Homo sapiens: one gene and its partner. The protein of the gene in region 1 interacts with the protein of each later gene in a biochemical or structural test. Each region holds a gene or a part of one and is shown on either strand. Other genes may lie near its edges. The genes, in order: SIN3B and RNF220.

Region 1 (8,970 bases):
ATCATCTGCACTTTGCAGACACCACAGACCCACAGAACCTATACGGGGTCTTGGGCTTGAGGATCGCCGAGGACTAGAGTGAGGAAGCCAGAGTGGTTGTGGGTGGGCCTGGGGCGAGGGTGGCCCACGGGAAGGGAGGTGGGAGGGAAGGGGGTCCCCACAGTCCCACAGGCTCTGGGAGAGGCCTTGGGCCAGCAGCCCGGCTCCTGTGGATTCCGTTTCTGTGTTGTAAAAGAAGGAGCGACCGCTCACTGTGCAGTGACAGGAGCAAGAAACCAAATCAGGTGAGGCAACACCCCCTGCCCAGGTGGGCACCAGGCTGATAACGCAGCCCGTGCCATGATCTGGGCACTGCCTGGGGAGTAGTGTGCCCTCCTAAGCCACCTCCTCAGAGTGTCCAAGGACCTTCCCGACAGCTGGCTATCACCACGCCCGGCACCCTGCCAAGCTTCCCACCTCAGGATCCTGCAAGCAGGCACTCCCTACACACAGCTACTAACAGGCCCAGCTCCTGGCAACCTGAGGGCCCCGCTGGCCTTGGTTCTATGACTCAGGCCTTGTGAGCCTGCAGTGAGGACATGCAGCCGAAAGCCTCGAACCCAATGACTCAGAGCCCTGGCCCCCTGCGACCAGCCCAGGCAAATGCAACCTCTTGTGCCTCAGTTTCCCCACTGGTAAAATCAGAATAATGCCGCAGCAGAGTCAGGTTCAGGAGTGAGGTCAGATGATGCATTACTCTTTCTGTGTTGCTAACACCGGTGCCTGGCACAGTCGGCAAGAAAGAAATGAAGGCTGCTGCCACCCACTACCTAAGCCAAAGTCCATCACTGCCCCACGGGAGGGACGGAGACTTCGCTAGACAATGGCAGAGTCGGCCAGGAGCGGTGGCTTACGCATGTAATCCCAGCACTTTGGGAGGCTGAGGTGGGTGGATCACGAGGTCAGGAGTTCAAGACCAGCCTGGCCAACATGGTGAAAACCCATCTCTACTAAAAATATAAAAATTAGCTGGGTGTGGTGGTGTGCGCCTGTAGTCCCAGCCACTCAGGAGGCTGAGGCAGAAGAATCACTTGAACCCAGGAGGCTGAGGTTACAGTGAGCTGAGATCACACCACTGCACTCCAGCCTGTGTAACACAGCGAGACTCTGTCTCCAAACAAACAAACAGATAGACAATGGCAGAGTTGCTGGTTCTCCTAGGGCAGGCCACAGGCTGGGCATCACAGAGACATGAACCCTCGCCTCAACACAGCCCTGAAAGGGCAATGCCACTACCCTGCCTAACCACCAGGGAAACAGAGGCACAGACCCGGCGGTCGGGAGAGCCAGGACCCCACCCCCACCGGCCGGCAGGGCTAGGGAAGGCTTTACCTCGTCGTAGACGCTCTCGATCTCGTTGAGCAAGCTCTTGGAGCGCAGGGCCTTGGTGTCGTTCTGCTTGAAGTTCACAGCCTGGTGGTCAAGGGACTTGAGGTACGCCTTCTCATACTGCTCCCGCCAGATCTTGTTGAAGCCCTGCTGGGCCTCCCGCCACTCCTCTTCCTTGGCCTTCAGTCTGCGGGGGGAAGAGAGGTCAGCACCAGGGACAAGCCAGGGCATCCTCCCTGAAGCATCCCAGGGCTGGCCTGTCTTCCTCTGGGACTTGACTGGGGGTCCAGGACCCAGGCCCAGCCAGCTCCCAGCCTAGTCTGTGCAGTGGGCTCTGTGCACGTCAGAGGGAGGGCGTGATGGCCTTACAGAGCCAATGTGGCCGGCTTCCCGGTTCCTCCACCTCCTCCCTGGCACCCAGCACTCTCCGCATGGCTGTTGGCTCAACCACTCAGGTCCCCTGCTCAGCTGTGAGTCCCAAGAGAGGGACTGGGTCTGCCTCACTCAGCTGCATAATCCCAGGGCCAAGCACTGCACCTGCCTGAAAGTGACCACTTGATAAATGCCTGTTAACTAGCGCCGGACGGCATCCGAAATGCAGCATTAAATAAAATGCAAGCCACAGTGTAGTGGTCGCATCTGACTCTTAAAGCAGTTATTTAGATGTCTAGATGTATTATGTGCAAGGTGGAAAGTCCTAGAAGGTCACAGTGCTCTCCTCTCAGGAGTGGGAGACTGGGAAATACAGGAAGGCACCCTTAGGCCTCAGAGACCACCCCTGGAGATGACACCTGTTGACAAACAGCACTAATGAGCTCTCCAAGGGCTCCCTGCAGTGGGGAGGGGAGGGGAGGGGAGGGGAGGGAAGGGGGAAGGGGAAGGGGAAGGGAAGTCGGGACGCCACAGGGCACCTTTTCAGGACAACGGGGACAGCGGTGACAGGGTTCTTCTTGAGGCTCTCGATGATCTCCGGGGCCTTGTCGCCATAGATGCGATAAATGGCACGGCGCTGGATCACCTCCGACGTGCCTCCCAGGGAGTCGTCCAGCCGGAACTTCTCCTGGTCTTCCGGCGCCATCCGAGACAGCTTCTTCTGCACACTTTCCAACACACGGATTGTGGCCAGGTTCGTCTCCAGGACAACGTCTAACTATGGAAAGGAAGGCAGGACGGGGTCAGCCACTGGGGAACTCAAGAGGCCTCAGAGAGGAGCCTGGGACCTCAGAGACCAGAGGATTTTTTTGGGGGGGGGGTGTGTGTATTTAAGAGATAGGGTCTTGCTCTGTCACCCAGACTTGAGTGCTGTGGCACAATCAAAGCTCACTGCAGCCTCAACCTCCTGGGCTCAAACAATCCTCCCACCTTAGCCTCCCACGTAGCTAGGAATATAGGTGTGCACCACCATGCCTGGCTAATTAAAAAAATTTATGGCCGGGCACGGTGGCTCACGCCTGTAATCCTGGCACTTTGGGAGGCTGAGATGGGCGGATCACAAGGTCACGAGTTCGAGACCAGCCCGACCAACATAGTGAAACCCCGTCTCTACTAAAAATAAAAAAATTAGCCAGGAATGGTGGTGTGCCTGTAATCCCAGCTATTCAGGAGGCTAAGGCAGGAGAATCGCTTGAACCCAGGAGGTGGAGGTTGCAGTGAGCCAAGATCATGCCACTGGACTCCAGCCTGGGCGACAGAGTGAAACTCTGTCTCAAAAAAAAAAAAAAATTTTTTTTTTGTATAGATGGGCTCTTGCTTTGTTGCCCAGGTTGGTCTTGAACTCCTGGCCTCAAGCAGTCCTCCCACCTCAGCCTCCCAAAGTGCAGGGATTACAGGCGTGAGCCATCGTGCCCAGCCAATAAAACTTTTAATTACAAAAATTAATGTAGCCTGGGCAATACAGACCCTGTCTCTAAAAAAAGGAAAAAAAAATTAGCCAGGTGTGGTGGCTCATTCCTTTAATCTCAGCACTTTGGAAGGCCAAGGTGGGAGGATCGCTTGAGGCCAGGAGTGTGAGACCAGCCTCGGGAACACAGTGAGACTTCATGTCTACAAAAAAAGTAAAAAAAACAACTTGGGCATGGTAGTATGGACTTGTGGTTCCAGTTACTCAGGAGGCTGAGGTGGGAGGATCATTTGAGCCTGGGAGGTCAAGGCTGCAGCGATCCATGATTACGCCACTGCACTTCCAGCCTGGGAAACAGAGCAAGCAAAATAAATAAATAAATAAAATAAAAATAAATTTAATTTTTACATTAAAGAAACTTTTTAGGAGACAGGGTCTCATTCTGTTGTCCAGGGTGGAGTGCAGTGGTGTGATCTCGGCTCACTGCAGCCTCGGCCTCTCTGGCTCAAGCAATTCTACTGCTTCTGCCTCTCGAGTAGCTGGGATTACAGGCGCCCGCCACCACGCCCGGCTAATTTTTGTATTTTTGGTAGAGATGGGGTTTCGCCATGTTGCCCAGGCTGGTCTCAAACTCCTGAGCTTAAATGATCCACCTGTCTTGGCCTCCCAAAGTGTTGGGATTACAGGTGTCTGCCACTACGCCCAGCCCAAACAAAATTTTTAAACAGAAAGAAAAGTGCCATCTGGTAGCCAGCCCAAAGGCCAGCAAGACCCGGCAGGAAGCTTCCAGGAGCTGTTGGAATGTGCTGCAATTCCTGCTCCTCCAAACGAGACTGGGGCAGTGGAGGAGGATCAGGATGCATGTCCCATGGAGAAGGGGAACAGGCACATGCCGGGGGACCCGGCCACAGCAGCACACACACCTCGAAGCGCTCGTCCTCACAGCGGTGAAGCTGCTCCTCGTACGGTGTCTTCTTGGAGCTGACGAACGTGGAGTCCTCAGACCAGGAAGGGAAGGAGACCCAGGTGTCGTTCAGTACCTGCACCAAGAGGAAATGCCGTGAATGACGCTGCATGCCCCAGGAGCCAAGATTTACTGTTAGCCAGTGTAGAAAGTACCAAGATACATAATACCATCCTGATACATAATACCAACTGCCTTATACAAATGGGAAGGTGCATAAAGTTTTTAAGGAAAAACATGACTTTGGTCAAGTGGACACTCCCTTGGTATCCTGGGAGATTGGTTCCAGAACCACCCCTGAAGACCCAAATCCACAGATACTCAAGTCCCTGATGTCCAATGGAATCCTATTTGCATATATCCTATGCAAAATCATCTCTAGAATACTTATACCTAATGCAATGTAAATGCTGTGTAGATCATTGTTACACTGCATTCTTAAAATGTGGATTACGCTTTATTGCTGTATTGTCATTTTTTGGTTTCTCTTTCCCCACGTATTTTCAATCCATGGTTAGTTGAAACCACAGATGAGGAACTTGCAGATCCGGAGGGCCGATTTCATTTCAGACATTGGTAAATTCTCTCTGCAAAGGGTCAGACAGCAACCATCTCAGATTTTGCAGGCCATCCCAGATGAATACTCAACTCTGCCTTTGTGGTGAGAAAAGCAGCCACAGGCAATATGTAAAGGAATGGTTGTGTCTGTGTGACAGTAAAACTTTATTTACAAACACGGGCAGCGGGCCAGGGCCCGTGGGCCAGAGTTTGCTGACCCCTGCACTATATCCTGGAATCCAGCAGGTATTCTTGAACTTGGACATGCAGTAATCGTCTGTCCACGAACCCTGGAGAAGTGTCCAATGGTCAAGCTAAACAGAAACACACTGAGGTCAGTGAGCCCGGGACAGAGCAGAATCATGGCAGCAATAAACCTAAGTCAAATAACAGATGAATAAGCCGAACTCCACGTTATCCCTGGCACTCTGTGTTTTGCCAAAACTACCAGCAGGGTACAACACTGTTGTCTCTGCTCAGGTGGTTTTGCCGGGCCACATCCCAGCACCACCCATAACCCAACATTCAGGAGGGCTGAGCACACAGCATTTCATTCATAACGGGGGTATCGGGTGTTTGCTGGGGAGGGGTGGGGGATGCACCATGTCAACGAACATTTGAGCCCCAGGGAGCGCTACCTCCTTGCAGATGGCTGTCCTCCCACTGCACTTGGGCTGCTGGTAGGTTTTGGGGAGTGCCCGGTAGCTGGATCCTATGCGCTTGCAGGATGCATAATCAATTTCCCGGCTTATCCCGTCCCCGGATCTGTCGCTCATGGGTGGCGCGAAGGACAGCTCTTTTACCCCCAGGAAGGACTTGAACTGTGCAAAGAGTTCTGGAAATTTCCTTCAAAGATAAAGACACATGGTAACTGGTCATCCCCAGGGCCTTCTGAGAGGGATCTGGAGATTTTAGAATGGCTTCATGTGGACATTACAAGTTAAACAGAGTCAGAATTCAACATCATGGATGCGAATGAGAGGCGGAAGAATCCAATACACAGGAAGTCACTGCAAGTCCCGGGGTGTGTGAATGAATGGGCCTCCCACCCATCTGTCACACACCAGGTCCCTTCCTGTGCCTATTAATCCCATACTCACAGTAAGGCTTTGAAATACACCAGAAAAGATGACTTAAACTGGCAGAAGCTGGAACCCCTGATGTTCCCTGACTGGAAGAGGCCAGGCTTCAGGCCAGGGAGTGGCAAGCCACAGCCAGTCTGCACACTGCCTGTGTTTTGTTTGGTTTGGTATTTTCTTTTTAGAGATAGTGTCTTACTCTGTTGCCCAGGCTCAAGGGCAGTGGCATGATCTCAGCTTACTGCAACCTCAAACTCGTGGGCTCAAGAGATCCTCCCACCGCAGCCTCCTCAGTAGCTGGGACCACAGGCATGTGCCACCACACCCGGCTAAATTTTTTTTTTTTTTTTTTTTTGAGACAGAGTTTCACTCTTGTCGCCCAGGCTGGGGTGCAATGGCACAATCTCGGCTCACTTCAACCTCCACCTCCCGGGTTCAAGCAATTCTCCTGTCTCAGCTTTCTGAGTAGCTGGGACTACAGGCATGCACCACCATGCCCGGCTAATTTTTGTATGTTTAGTAGAGACGGGGTTTCCCCATGTTGGCCAGGCTGGTCTCAAACTCCTGACCTCCGGTGATTCACCCGCCTCGGCCTCCCAAAGTGCTGGGATTACAAGTGTGAGCCACCATGCAGGGCCAATTTAAAAATTTTTTTGTAGAGATGGGGTCTTGCTATGTTGCCCAAGCTGGTCTTGAACTCCTGGCCTCAAGTGATCCTTTCACCTCAACCTCCCAAAGTACTGGGGTGACAGGCGTGAGCCACCATGCCTAGCCATCCCATTGTAAATAAAGTTTCACTGGCCTGCAGTCACATCCACTTGTGTACGCACTGCCTGTGGCTGCCTGCACAAGAGGGGTTTGAGTCATTTCCACAAAGCCCATCTGGCCCCTCAGAGATCAAGTTTGCCTATCTCTGATCCACAGTCTTCCTCTCATGAGGGAGACTTCTCTCTGTGAACCCCTCTCTGGACACAAGCTTGAAAGTCATAATGTCATGGCTGTGGTCGACAACAGGAAGGCTTTAATGCAAATGACCCTACAATGCCACCTGGATTTCTGTTTAAAATAGTATCAGACCTGGTGGTGTGTACCTGGAATCCCAGCTACTCAGGAGGCCAAGGCGGGAAGATCACTTCAGCTCAAGAGTTTGAGACCAGCCTGGGCAACAGAGCAGGACCCCGTCTCTAAGCAGTAACATCAGATCCTACCAAAAAAGTTGCAGTTATGGCCAGGCGCAGTGGCTCATGCTTGTAATCCCAGAACTTTGGGAGGCCGAGGCGGGCGGATCACGAGGTCAGGAGATCGAGACCACGGTGAAACCCCGTCTCTACTAAAAATACAAAAAAAAAATTAGCTGGGCGTGGTGGCGGGCGCCTGTAGTCCCAGCTACTGGGAGAGGCTGAGGCAGGAGAATGGCGTGAACCCAGGAGGCAGAGGTTGCAGTGAGCCGAGATCACGCCACTGCACTCCAGCCTGGGCGACAGAGCGAGACTCCGTCTCAAAAAAAAAAAAAAAAAAAAAAGTTGCAGTTACTTTGACTGCTGGTGCCACAATCCTGCTGTGACCTAGCCACCCAGCCCACCCTCGCATAACGACGTCCCCCTCATTGATGTGGGCTCCGTCGTTCCCCGTATTTAAGAACCCTATGCCAACCCTGCTCACAAGGAAAACCCACAAGCCGATGGAAACGTAGGAAGGAAAGAGACCAACAAAAAAGCTGCAGAGATGCCTGAGGCTACTGCTGGGATAAACGCAAATCGTGACTGCTCTGAAGGGAATGCTCAACCCGATCCACCCTGGCTGCCACGCGGCTGCCAGCTGCGAGGGGCAGTTCCCTGGGCCGTGTTCAGCTGCCCAGCCCAGCTGAGCACTTGACCGCAGGTTGAACACGCGGAGGAACGCCACATGGTGGTGAACGCTCCTAACCCAACCAGGCCTCGTGTCAAGCACACGCAGAGGCCCGCTTCAATTCTGGACCTTGCTCCATACAGACCCTTCCCCAAACGCCCTTCCCCATACGAGTCTCTACTGCTGAAACATGGAAACAAGAACAGCTGACTGTGCTCCGGCACTGCCCATCTGTTCAGCACCTTGCCTTTCAGATTCTCACCTTTCATGTTCCTTCTGTCTTCCCCTCTAACCTCCTGATAAACCCAGGAGGGAGGTATGGCCATTTTACAAAGACACTGAGGCTCGCTTGGCTAGTAGGAAGCAGAGTCCCAATTCCAACCCGGGGTGGTCACGTGCCCGCTGGACCCAGGTGCCAACACCAGCTCCACACACAGCCCCTGGGGGCCCCTTTTCCCAGGTGGGACCCAGGCTCAGAGAGTGCTGGATTCTAAGCCCAGTGGAGGCAACTCAAGGTGAATGTGCATTCCACATCCACAGAAAAAGCCCAGCCGTGTGCCCACCACCCACGTCACAAACAGACCCCAGGAGTCCCCGTTTTGGCTGAGACTAGAGTAACACCATCCTGCTCTGGGCTGTTCTTCAGGGCGTTTACAGACCTTCAGCAGCCCAAGAAAGAAAACCCACTGAAAAGATCACCCCAACACGTGCATGCCTGAGACCACCAGGGAAAGGCCTTCTGATGGGCTCAGCTTGACCCATGAGGGTCGCAGACTCAGGAGCATTTGCTGTCAACACCACTTACAGGGAGGACTAGAGACAAATGTCCATTGTTAGAGACCCTGGTAAGGGAAGGAAAAGCGGTGCAGTTGCTTAAAAATGAGGACATGGGTTCACATCTGATGCTGAAACACTTCCAAGAAATGCTGAGTTAAAAAAAAAAATACACACCGAAGCCCAGCAGCCACTGTGCCCAGAAGGCAGAGAACATGCAAAGGGCTGGCTTTGGGGCTGGAGCACCCTGGCTGCCGCCTAACAGCACGCTAAGCTCACCTATGAGTGCTTGTCCTAGAGTAAGTTAGAGGGGTTCGACCTGAGCCTCAGCTTCCTTATTTTTTTTTGAGACAGGTTCTCACTCTGTTACCCAGGCTGAGTGCAGTGGTGAGATCAGGGCTCACTGCAACCTCTGCCTCGAAAACTCAAGCGATCCAGCCACCTCAACCTCCAAAGTAGGTACAGGTACACGCCACCACTTCTGGCTAGTTTCTGACGAGGTCTCACTATGTTGCCCAGGCTGGTCATTTTTTTTTGTT
Region 2 (8,970 bases), on another chromosome or scaffold:
GTGCTGTTCCAACACCTGTCACTGGCTGGACCAACAGCAGAGCTGCACTGGGGGACATTTTTAGCACCTGGGGCTCCCTTCTTTTGAGAACTAGCACACCAAAGAAGGCAGCAGCTAGGGCAAGGCCTATGTGCCCATGCCCTGGGGCTTACAACACCTCTTACCCCCTTGCCCCATACTTCTGGCGCTGAAGTTTTATCAAGAAATAGCCAGATAAAAGATTTGTGCCAGGCCGGGTGTGGTGGCTCATACCTGTAATCCCAGCACTTTGGGAGGCCGAGGTGGGTGGATCACCTGAGGTCAGGAGTTCAAGACCAGCCTGGCCAACATGGTGAAACCCCGTCTCTACTAAAAATACAAAAATTAGCTGGTTGTAGTGGCACATGCCTGTAATCCCAGCTACTCGGGAGGCTGAGGCAGGAGAATCTCTCGAACCCAGGAGGTGGAGGTTGCAGTGAGCCGAAATCGTGCCACTGCACTCTAGCCTCCAGCCTGGGTGAAAAAGTGAGACTCTGTCTCAAAAATAAATAAATAAAAAGGAAAAGAAAAGAAAAGAAGAGAAAAGATTTGTGCCACAGCTGCTCTGCCTGTTTGCTTCATGACTTCTCATCCAGCTACTTGGAACCGGCTTAAATGTAAGGAACTCATGAAAGATAAGAAACGCTTCAGGCCAGGACCTGAGCAGGACAAAGACCCTGCACTGCTGACTGTCTTAACACCCTTCTTTTCCCTACCCACTCCTCCTGTTTGGTTCAGAGGGGCTTCATGCTGGATTTTAGCAACGCAGTCACCGCCAGGGCTTAAAGATACAGCTGCAGGCTTCCATTTCCTGTGAAGCTTCCTGGGAAATTTCTCCATCTCACCACTCTTGTGCCCACATCATTGCCACCTTATTTGAAACCAATCATTCCCATGTCCTCTTTCCAGCATGTCCCTTCCAGATGTGAGGAGCTCTGGGCTCCCCAATGCAGTTGGGTGAACTCTCACTGGCAACCAACACACAGGAGGGACCATGGTTCACCACTATAGGTCTCTTCTCCAGGATCCAGGAGCTGGATGGAGGACAGGAGAGGAAAGGCATGGCTCCTTAGTCACACACCTCCTTAGACTACAGGTGGAAGCAGGCTTGTCTTAAGGGCTGTATAGTTAGGTTCCCCTGTAGTCTGCTTCTCTAGCCTAGAAGCCCCTTGCTCTGCCCAGGTTTGGCATGGTACCCAAGAAAAACATCTTTTCTCCCTAACTGCGGATCTCTTTTAGTGGAATGTTGGTGGCGCACTAGGCTCTGTGTGCTGTCCTTTATGTAAAGAGCAGTAGCAGGTTAGAAAATCTATGGTTCTGAAAGGACAATCAACAACTTAGACACACAGCTTAAGTATTTCTTCTAGAATTGGGAAGGTCAGAGTGCCTCCTAGGCAGCAAAAATTCCTTCCAACTTACTTTCTTGAAGTAATACCTATTTCCTTTAGTCTTTTCAAAAATCTGTTTCCAGTGGGACCTACCTCAGTGCTCACCTGCTCTGTCTGCTTCTTTATTTTGTCCTAAAATATCAATCCGAGTACTCCCAGGCCTGAGATATCTGGAGCTCCTCCTCAGTAACCACAGGTCCCCATCTCTAAGGCCTGTTGCCCTCAGCCAAGTGTCTCCACCGAAACTCTTGCCCGTTCACTGCTTCCCACAGCAGATTACATTTGAGGTAACCGATCTGATCCATCAGACCAACCTCCAGGGGCCTGGTGGGAAGCTTTGCTGAGGATGAAGAAGAGGCCCTACTCTGGGAGGAGGGATGGGGGTGATCGGATACAGGAACTTATCTGCAATTCTTCACTTCTTTCATATCTAACAACGACAGCAATCTCTGTTCTGTCAGCACGCACAGCGCAGTTTAAATGGGCCTCGCCACTCGCCTGCTCATCCTGCCTCTGCCTCCTTCTCTCTGAAGTCTGCTGGGCAGCTTCTTCAGCTGGCGTTATCACTCCCTCTAACCGGTCTTGGCAGGCAATCTAATTCCTCCTGAAAAGGTCACCGCCATTTTAACTGCCTTTCAATCACATTAAGCACGCGCTGCCCGGCTTGCAGCCCGGCCCGCCCGGCGGGCGATCAATGCGCTGCACTGACACCAGCCCGCCTGGCGAGGCCACACCCAACCCCCCAAGAGTTAGGGCCTATCAGTCCTGGCCAGGGAGGGTAGGCTGACAGATGGCCAGCTTTTGCAGACAGGGTTTTGGGGGCAGAGGCAGTAGGGATCAGCCAGGGCCTCCCTTTGATAGCCCCCCCACTGAGGAGCCTCAGCCTCCTCCGCTCCACTGCGCCCCGCTCTCTGCCTCGTGGCCCCCGCTGATCTCGCTGTAAAACAGCCTTTCAAGTCTGCCTGTCTTTTGACTGCACTAAGCTGTTTAAGAGGCGGCAGCAGCTTCTATCAGGAAAGCTGGAGCAATTCTCTGCAGATAAAGGCACCTCCGGCCCCTGTTCCCTCTTCAAGTCTCACTCTCATTCTCGCTCTCCAAATCGCTCAAAGAAAAGCCCCCTTTGAACTCCCCTCAGGAATTCTTGAAAGGAACAACCTCACAGTGTAAACACTCAGGGAAAACGGATACCCGCCCGGGGCCTAAGAGCCCCTCACACTGCTGTGCAAGTGCATCCCGGCACAGGGGAAATACTCTTGTCAAATCAGCAGGCCCTTTGCAGCTTTATCCTCCATAAGCCCTGTCTGGTGCCCAGAAGCCATCAGGTCCAGGTCTGTGCCAAGGAACCTAAGAAGGTGCCACAGCAATGGAGGATGTGAGCAGTTGCAGCTGCCAACAGAGCTAACCAGAGCAGCACGTTGAAACTGACCCTGTGTGGCTGCCATCGGACACCCATGTGTCCAACTCATGGGACAGTCGTCAGCCCTGCTGCTCACTCTTCTAGGGCCTCAGATACTCGAAGGCTCCAGTACGGGATGAGTGAAATGGCAAACTAACACTCTCCAGCTCCGGCTCAGGGAGACTGTTTGGTCTGACTAACCTTCCTGATTTATGTTTTGGCTTGCCCCCAAACACCTGGGTAATGTGAGAGACGCCCAGAGGCATAATGTCTCATCTGGGCTCTTAGCCCCTTCGTGGAACCAGTCTGCACTGGACGGCCCTGCAGAGACCACTCCTCAGCATCTGCCCAGGTAGCACGGCCCCACGAAGGCAGAGAACTTCTTCCCAGCTGCTGTGAGATTCCCCAGGGACCATACACAGCAGTATTCCCAAAGGTGTTGCCCAGAGAGAGAGGCAGACGGGAAGCAGATTGGCTCACTTAATGACCACAAGCTGCAGTACCAGCTGTGCTTGTGCACAGAAAGAGAGAAGAGCTGGAGGCCAAGAGGCAGACAGCTCCCCTTTTCCCCTGCCCAAGGCTGGGGAGTTTAACAAGTCACTAACCCTGGGCACCCAACCAATTCTGCTGTCTGACCTGGTGGGGGGTGTCAAGCCTTGCTCTTCCAAGGAGCTGGGAGGGCACTGGAGATGGGCAGGGCCCTGCACACTCCTTTGTAGCAACTGGGGAGAGCCCAAGGGAAGGAGGGAGCAGCTGGGCCCAGGCCCCTCTTGCTTCAGGGCAGAGGGCGCCCAGGGAGAAGGGATGGGATCAGAGCTAAAATTAGATTCACCAATGAAGCTCATGGGAGGTCAAATTTTGCCATAACTCACTCTCCTCTGTAACTGATTTCCCTGACATAGGGCTGAAGAGGAGGAGGAGGAAAATCCAATGTGTTTGCCTGGAAGCCCTCAGGGCCCCCAGTGCTGGAGGTGTACAGCAGGTTGCTGGATTCTCATTTATCAGCCTTAAGAGGGATGGAGTGATAAATGCATAACCGTCCCTTTAATATTTTATGCAGGTGCTAACGCGGCTTGGCTGTCACCTTCAATGCATCACCCGAAGCTGAGAGCCCCCCTTCGTCACTCCTAGCTTGCAGCCTCACAATTCCATTTCCCCACCCAAATACATCCATTTTAATATGCACATCACAGGCAGGCAGCACGGTCACAAAGGAGCCCCACCAGCAGCAGTCCCCACGTGGTGGAACGGATGGATGACCAGCCACCAGCCTCGGCCTCTTGGCTTCCAGCAGATGGATACCCAGCAGAGGCCTGGCACCAGAGTGCCAATGTCTACGTGTCAGCTGCTTGTACCTCGGAAGCCACCTTCCAGGAGAGTGGTGGCCCGTATCCGCTTCTGTCCACACCACTCATACTCCTCAAAGCGGTTGTTGTTCTCATGCTCGATGTCCACAGCATCATCCTCAGCCATGCAGGAGCCTTCCCTCTGTGAAGAGCAGAGCAGGATCATGCTGGGCCCAGGCCATCCCCACCTGCTCCCCACAGTCTGCAACGAAGGCACAGCTCTAGCCCCAGCTGTGGTGTGCCAAGTGGGCCCTCAGCTCTAGGGCTCCTTTGAAGCAAACCAATTTAGAGGTCAAAGACCTGGGCCTCTTCCCAATAGTTTTCCGCTGGAGCCCAAGGAGGGAATGAGTGAGAGTGAAAGCAAAAGGAGAGAGCAGTGGTCAGAAGGGAAGAAGCTGCTGAGACCACATGGAGACCCCAAGAGCCCACAGATTCAGGGGCAGTCAGCAGCTAGTGTCGGGGGAAGGGAGCGGGGAAGGAAGGTGGGTGGTGATGGCCCCTCTACCTTAGAAAGGCAATGCTCCACATGCCTACTCATCTCCTGCTCCGATCCTGCCAGGGGGCGGTTGCACAGGGGACATACCTGCCCTTCATCTTGCTTCCTCCGTTTCATTTTCCCAATCCGAGCTGCACGGGGAAACCGAAAACAAAGCACAGAACAAGCAGACGGTCACTGCAGCCCCCAGGGTCCCAGTGGAGCTGACACATCCTGACCTCTTGCCAGCCATTGGCCTTTTTATTCAGTGCCTGATCTGGCCCTCATCTTGAAATACCTCCTGCTCCTTTGGGGACTGGGCTTTGCCAAGAGCACCTGGGGAGGAGACTGGTGCTAACTAAGCCAGTGAGTAAGTCCACTCTTTGGCTGCAGCTGGTGCAAGGTCTACCCATACCTTTCTATTTGCAGTGTTTAATAAAAATCCAGTGAGCAAAGACACTCCATGTTGCTAGGTATCTCTCCAGAAGGCCAAGACCATGAACTCTTTTGGTGTCAGGAAATACAACTCTAAAGAGCATCTCTTGACTAGAACCTAACCCCTCCGATGGCCTGACTTGGCCTGCTGTTCACTCATCAGCTAAATCCTCTTTGGTTCCTGGGCCAAGAGCCCTGAGGTACAGCTCCTAGCATCCCACCTAGAATCTTATCAGGAAGAATTTCTCTGAGGTCCACTAATCCCATTTCACAGAAGAGGAGACTGAGGCCCAGTCATAAAGGTAAGACGGTCTGGGTCAGACCTTTGGCAGCCAGGTCAGAAGGCTCAGGGAACCCTGAGAAGGCAGCCCTTATTGTGCCCACCCGAACCTGTTCCATCATTTCTAATCAGTACAGAGGGGCTGGCAGGCCCTGGAGGCAGAGGGCTGCCTGCCATGTTGTCCCACAGGGGGCTCAGTTCCAAAGTGCACACTGCAAGCCCACAACACTGCTAATTAATGCTGAGCAATGCAATCATTTCTAATTAGCTCACTAATCCCTCTCTGTAGCCCTCCTGTCACTGAAGCAGGAAGGGGTCAAAACAAGAAACTCTCTTCCCTCTAGTCCCTTCCAGAATGCCACAGCAGGATCAGAGATGGCTACTCTGGGACCAGACTGATGGGGAGTGGGGAGAGCCAGCAAAGGAGGGAAAGGTTCCCCAAAGCAGGGCCAGGAAGAACTTTCTCATGGACAGTGACCCTAACGGGAAGCTCATGAATGCAATCTAGGAGGGGAACACAGGTGAGAGCTGCTATGTTACAATTTAAGCTTCTACCGTGTGTCAGGCTCACAGCCAAGTACCTTACCCAAGGTAGCTCATTTACTACCACTTGCTGAAGCTAGATTGCATTATCCCATTTTAACAGATGAAGAAACCCAAAGCTTAGAGAGATCAAGGTACGTGTCCAAGTAGCTAAAAAGTGGCAAAGGCAAGATAGGAAACCAGAACTGACTTCACAACCTAGAATGCCCTCCTGTTTCAAGGGGACCTCCTAACTGAGCAGCATCAACAAAGACTGGTCCCAGTGAGTGTGCTAGGGCTCCAGCTCCTGCCTGTTGTGAGCCTGAGGCAGGGAGCTACTCCAACTCCAAAACAGAGCAACCCCAGAAAGACCCAAACCAAAAGGAAAGCTACCATCCTGCCAGAACTGGGCATGGAGTTTGAGGAAACTTGGTCTGTAGCCCAGTCCATCTCTTCACTTTCCTGTGTCTTCACTATAGGTGACATGACTGTGTCCTAGTGCCTCACTTGACTTTGTGGACACAGATCGAGAACTCTTCATTTTGGCTGCCCTAACTCTTGGAATCTCAGACTTAGGTAGCCTTGACACTCTAGAGCCAGGGCTGGGATGGAGAATGGACGTGAAACATCAGAAAGGCATTGAGCAAAGGACCCTGAGAGTTCTAGAAGTGTAGTAAGGAGCAGTGTGCCAACACAAAGCTTCCTCCCTACCATGCCTACACCAAGGGAATGCCTCCCTGGGGAAGAAGGTGCTGATGATACCACAATGTTCAATGACTAAGGAAACGAATCTCATGGAATGGTCAAGAAAGGCACAATACTGGATGCGCTCCTTGCTCAGGACACACAGGCCAGCAGATGATCCCTTGTTGTCCCTGGAAAGCACCCCAATGGACTGGGCTTCATCTGCAAATTCTCAGAGAAGGAAGGCAGGTTTGGTTTTCACCTTCCCATTCATCTTCTAAATCCTGAATTAAGCTTACCAAAGTGTGGTAGGGAAAGTTCTGTTCTCTATCCAGAGGCTACGTACGAGTAGGAAGAATCAAAGCATTTGCCAAGGAGGTAGCATGGCATGGTTGGAGAAACACGGGCTTTGGTGGGAAACAAACTTCAATTGAATCATGGCTCAGTTACATCCCAGCTGTGTACTTTTAAACAAACCACTTTCACCTCTCAGAGCCTGTTTTCTTATTCACAAAAGGTGTGTAATACTCTTCTCAGAGGCGTTGTGAGAATGGTGCTTAACATGGCGCCAGCCCATCATGAATTTCTCCCTTTTCCAGACTAGGGCTCAGCCTGGCAGCAGAAACCAAGTGATAAGAGCTGGGGATCTTGAACTCCATGGCCTCTCTCACTTACCAGCTGACCCAGAGACCCTAAACCCCTTACAGCCACCCCCCAGATACCACACCCCAGTAAGCACAAAAAGCTAGGATCATTCAATTGTATTCAGCAAACAGGAATGCTCCAGAGGTTTGAATCCAAAAGGGGGGCTGCTAGGTAGTGCATACACGGCCTGCTTTCAGAGAAGGCCTCTAAGAGCTGTCGAGCCCACGCTGATCACCTTTGTGAAATGTGGGCCGACTGATAACTCAAAGAGCCCTGGGATGAGTTAGTTCCTGTTGCCGTGGGAACTCCAGATCTCACTGTATTGTCAAGTCTCAGCAGAGGGGCTGTATTCACACTACTGGGCACTGATTAAAAACTGGAAGAAAAACATTCTCAGCGCCCTGCAGGTTTGTATAGTGAGGTCCCAGCAGTTTGCAAATTCAAAGCTGAGCTCCCGAGTAGAATTGTGTAGCTCGTTCCTCATTCTCCGGCACTTATTGCCCCCCCAGGGTTCTTCAGGGCCTTTAGAGAGGTTTGGGCAAGAGCTGGGCGCCATACCTCCATTAGACAGACGGGGAAACTGAGAGCGGCAGCTTTGGTTTGCACATACTCAGGCGCCGTGACTGCGAAGAAGCCAACGGGCCCCAGAGTCGAAGAGACCCAGGCAAGCCAGGAGCGGCAGGCAGTGAGGGAGGGAGGGAGGAGGCCGGGGGTGGGGCGGAGGGAGGGGCCGGGCAGGACTCACCATTCAGTCGGGTCTGCCGGTTGGCTCGTACTCGCAGAAAGGTCTGGGAGAAGATCGCGGGCAGATGCAAGAAAAGAAAAGAGAGCGTCAGGCGCGGCCTGCAGTCCTGGCCCCCGCCCCAGCACCGGACCCCCGACCAAAGCTGCTCCGCCCCAAACAGCCCGTAAACAAACCTACTTCCTCCCTCCCGCCGGCCCCTCTGCTCCTCCGGCCGCTCCGGGCTCTCGGCATAGCCGCCGGGCGCTGCTCTAACGGGACCCCGTGGCCGCTGCGCGGTGCCGCCCCAGCCCTGGCCTCCGGCGCTCTGGGCCCCACGGCCGCCCGGCCGGCGAGGGCGGCGATGCGGGCGGATTCCCCGTGGCTGCCCGGCGGCGGCGGCACTTCAGCTCCAAGCGGCGGCGGCGGCCATGTTGGCCCTAATCACGTGATCTGCCGCCGTCGCGCGCTGGGGGTGAAAGTTCACAATGCGGCGGGGGCGGCCGGACAGAGACCAGGAAGCTGCCGTTTGTACTCGGGTAGCAACCGGCAGAAGCCTCCCCGGGGTCCCTCCCACCGCCCGTGAAGCCTACCCACCCAATCTTTAGCGGCTGCGAAGTCCTTCCACCCCACTCCACGACCCCTCCCGCTGCGGGGCTCCTTCCGCCCCATCGCCCGGCCCCGGCTCCCGCCTCCTGTGCCTGCCTTTCTCGCGGCTGCCCTTAGGGCAGAGGCATCGCGTTGGGTGCTTTACAGGGGACAAGGCGTCCGAATTCCCTATCGCCTGTGGGCGATCCCCGCCCAACCCCTAGGCCATCCAGTTCTGTTATCAGAGGACTCCCAACATGTCAGCTGTCTGCTGCACGGCCCCTGGAGCTCCCATAGGCACTGCATACCCACACGGCCAACATGGCCAACATGGAACTCAGTATCCTCCAAACAGAGGCCTTCCTCTTGGGTTCCCTGTTCATAAGAGGAAGCCACTATCTACTCAGGTGTGCCCACAGAAGAAAGTTGAGAGTCGTCCTGGACCCCACTTTCTCCATCCCTCACACTCAAT

Evidence for each region.
Region 2: the proteins of SIN3B (region 1) and RNF220 form a complex in vitro, tested with the Homo sapiens proteins (one study listed by BioGRID).

What each region holds. Positions count from the first base shown.
Region 1 is NC_000019.10:16,858,958-16,867,927, reverse strand, and holds part of SIN3B (paired amphipathic helix protein Sin3b), read right to left. Parts: intron 5,577-8,970; coding exon 5,369-5,576; intron 5,277-5,368; exon of another isoform or gene 5,045-5,276; coding exon of another isoform or gene 4,949-5,044; exon of another isoform or gene 4,285-4,948; coding exon of another isoform or gene 4,249-4,284; coding exon 4,132-4,248; intron 2,519-4,131; coding exon 2,280-2,518; intron 1,556-2,279; coding exon 1,372-1,555; intron 1-1,371.
Region 2 is NC_000001.11:44,631,350-44,640,319, reverse strand, and holds part of RNF220 (E3 ubiquitin-protein ligase RNF220), read right to left. Parts: exon of another isoform or gene 8,166-8,970; coding exon of another isoform or gene 8,112-8,165; exon of another isoform or gene 8,108-8,111; intron 7,978-8,107; coding exon 7,935-7,977; exon of another isoform or gene 7,930-7,934; intron 5,083-7,929; exon of another isoform or gene 4,776-5,082; coding exon 4,732-4,775; coding exon of another isoform or gene 4,654-4,731; exon of another isoform or gene 4,291-4,653; coding exon 4,158-4,290; exon of another isoform or gene 3,820-4,157; intron 1-3,819. UniProt on the Homo sapiens protein: E3 ubiquitin-protein ligase that promotes the ubiquitination and proteasomal degradation of SIN3B. Independently of its E3 ligase activity, acts as a CTNNB1 stabilizer through USP7-mediated deubiquitination of CTNNB1 promoting Wnt signaling.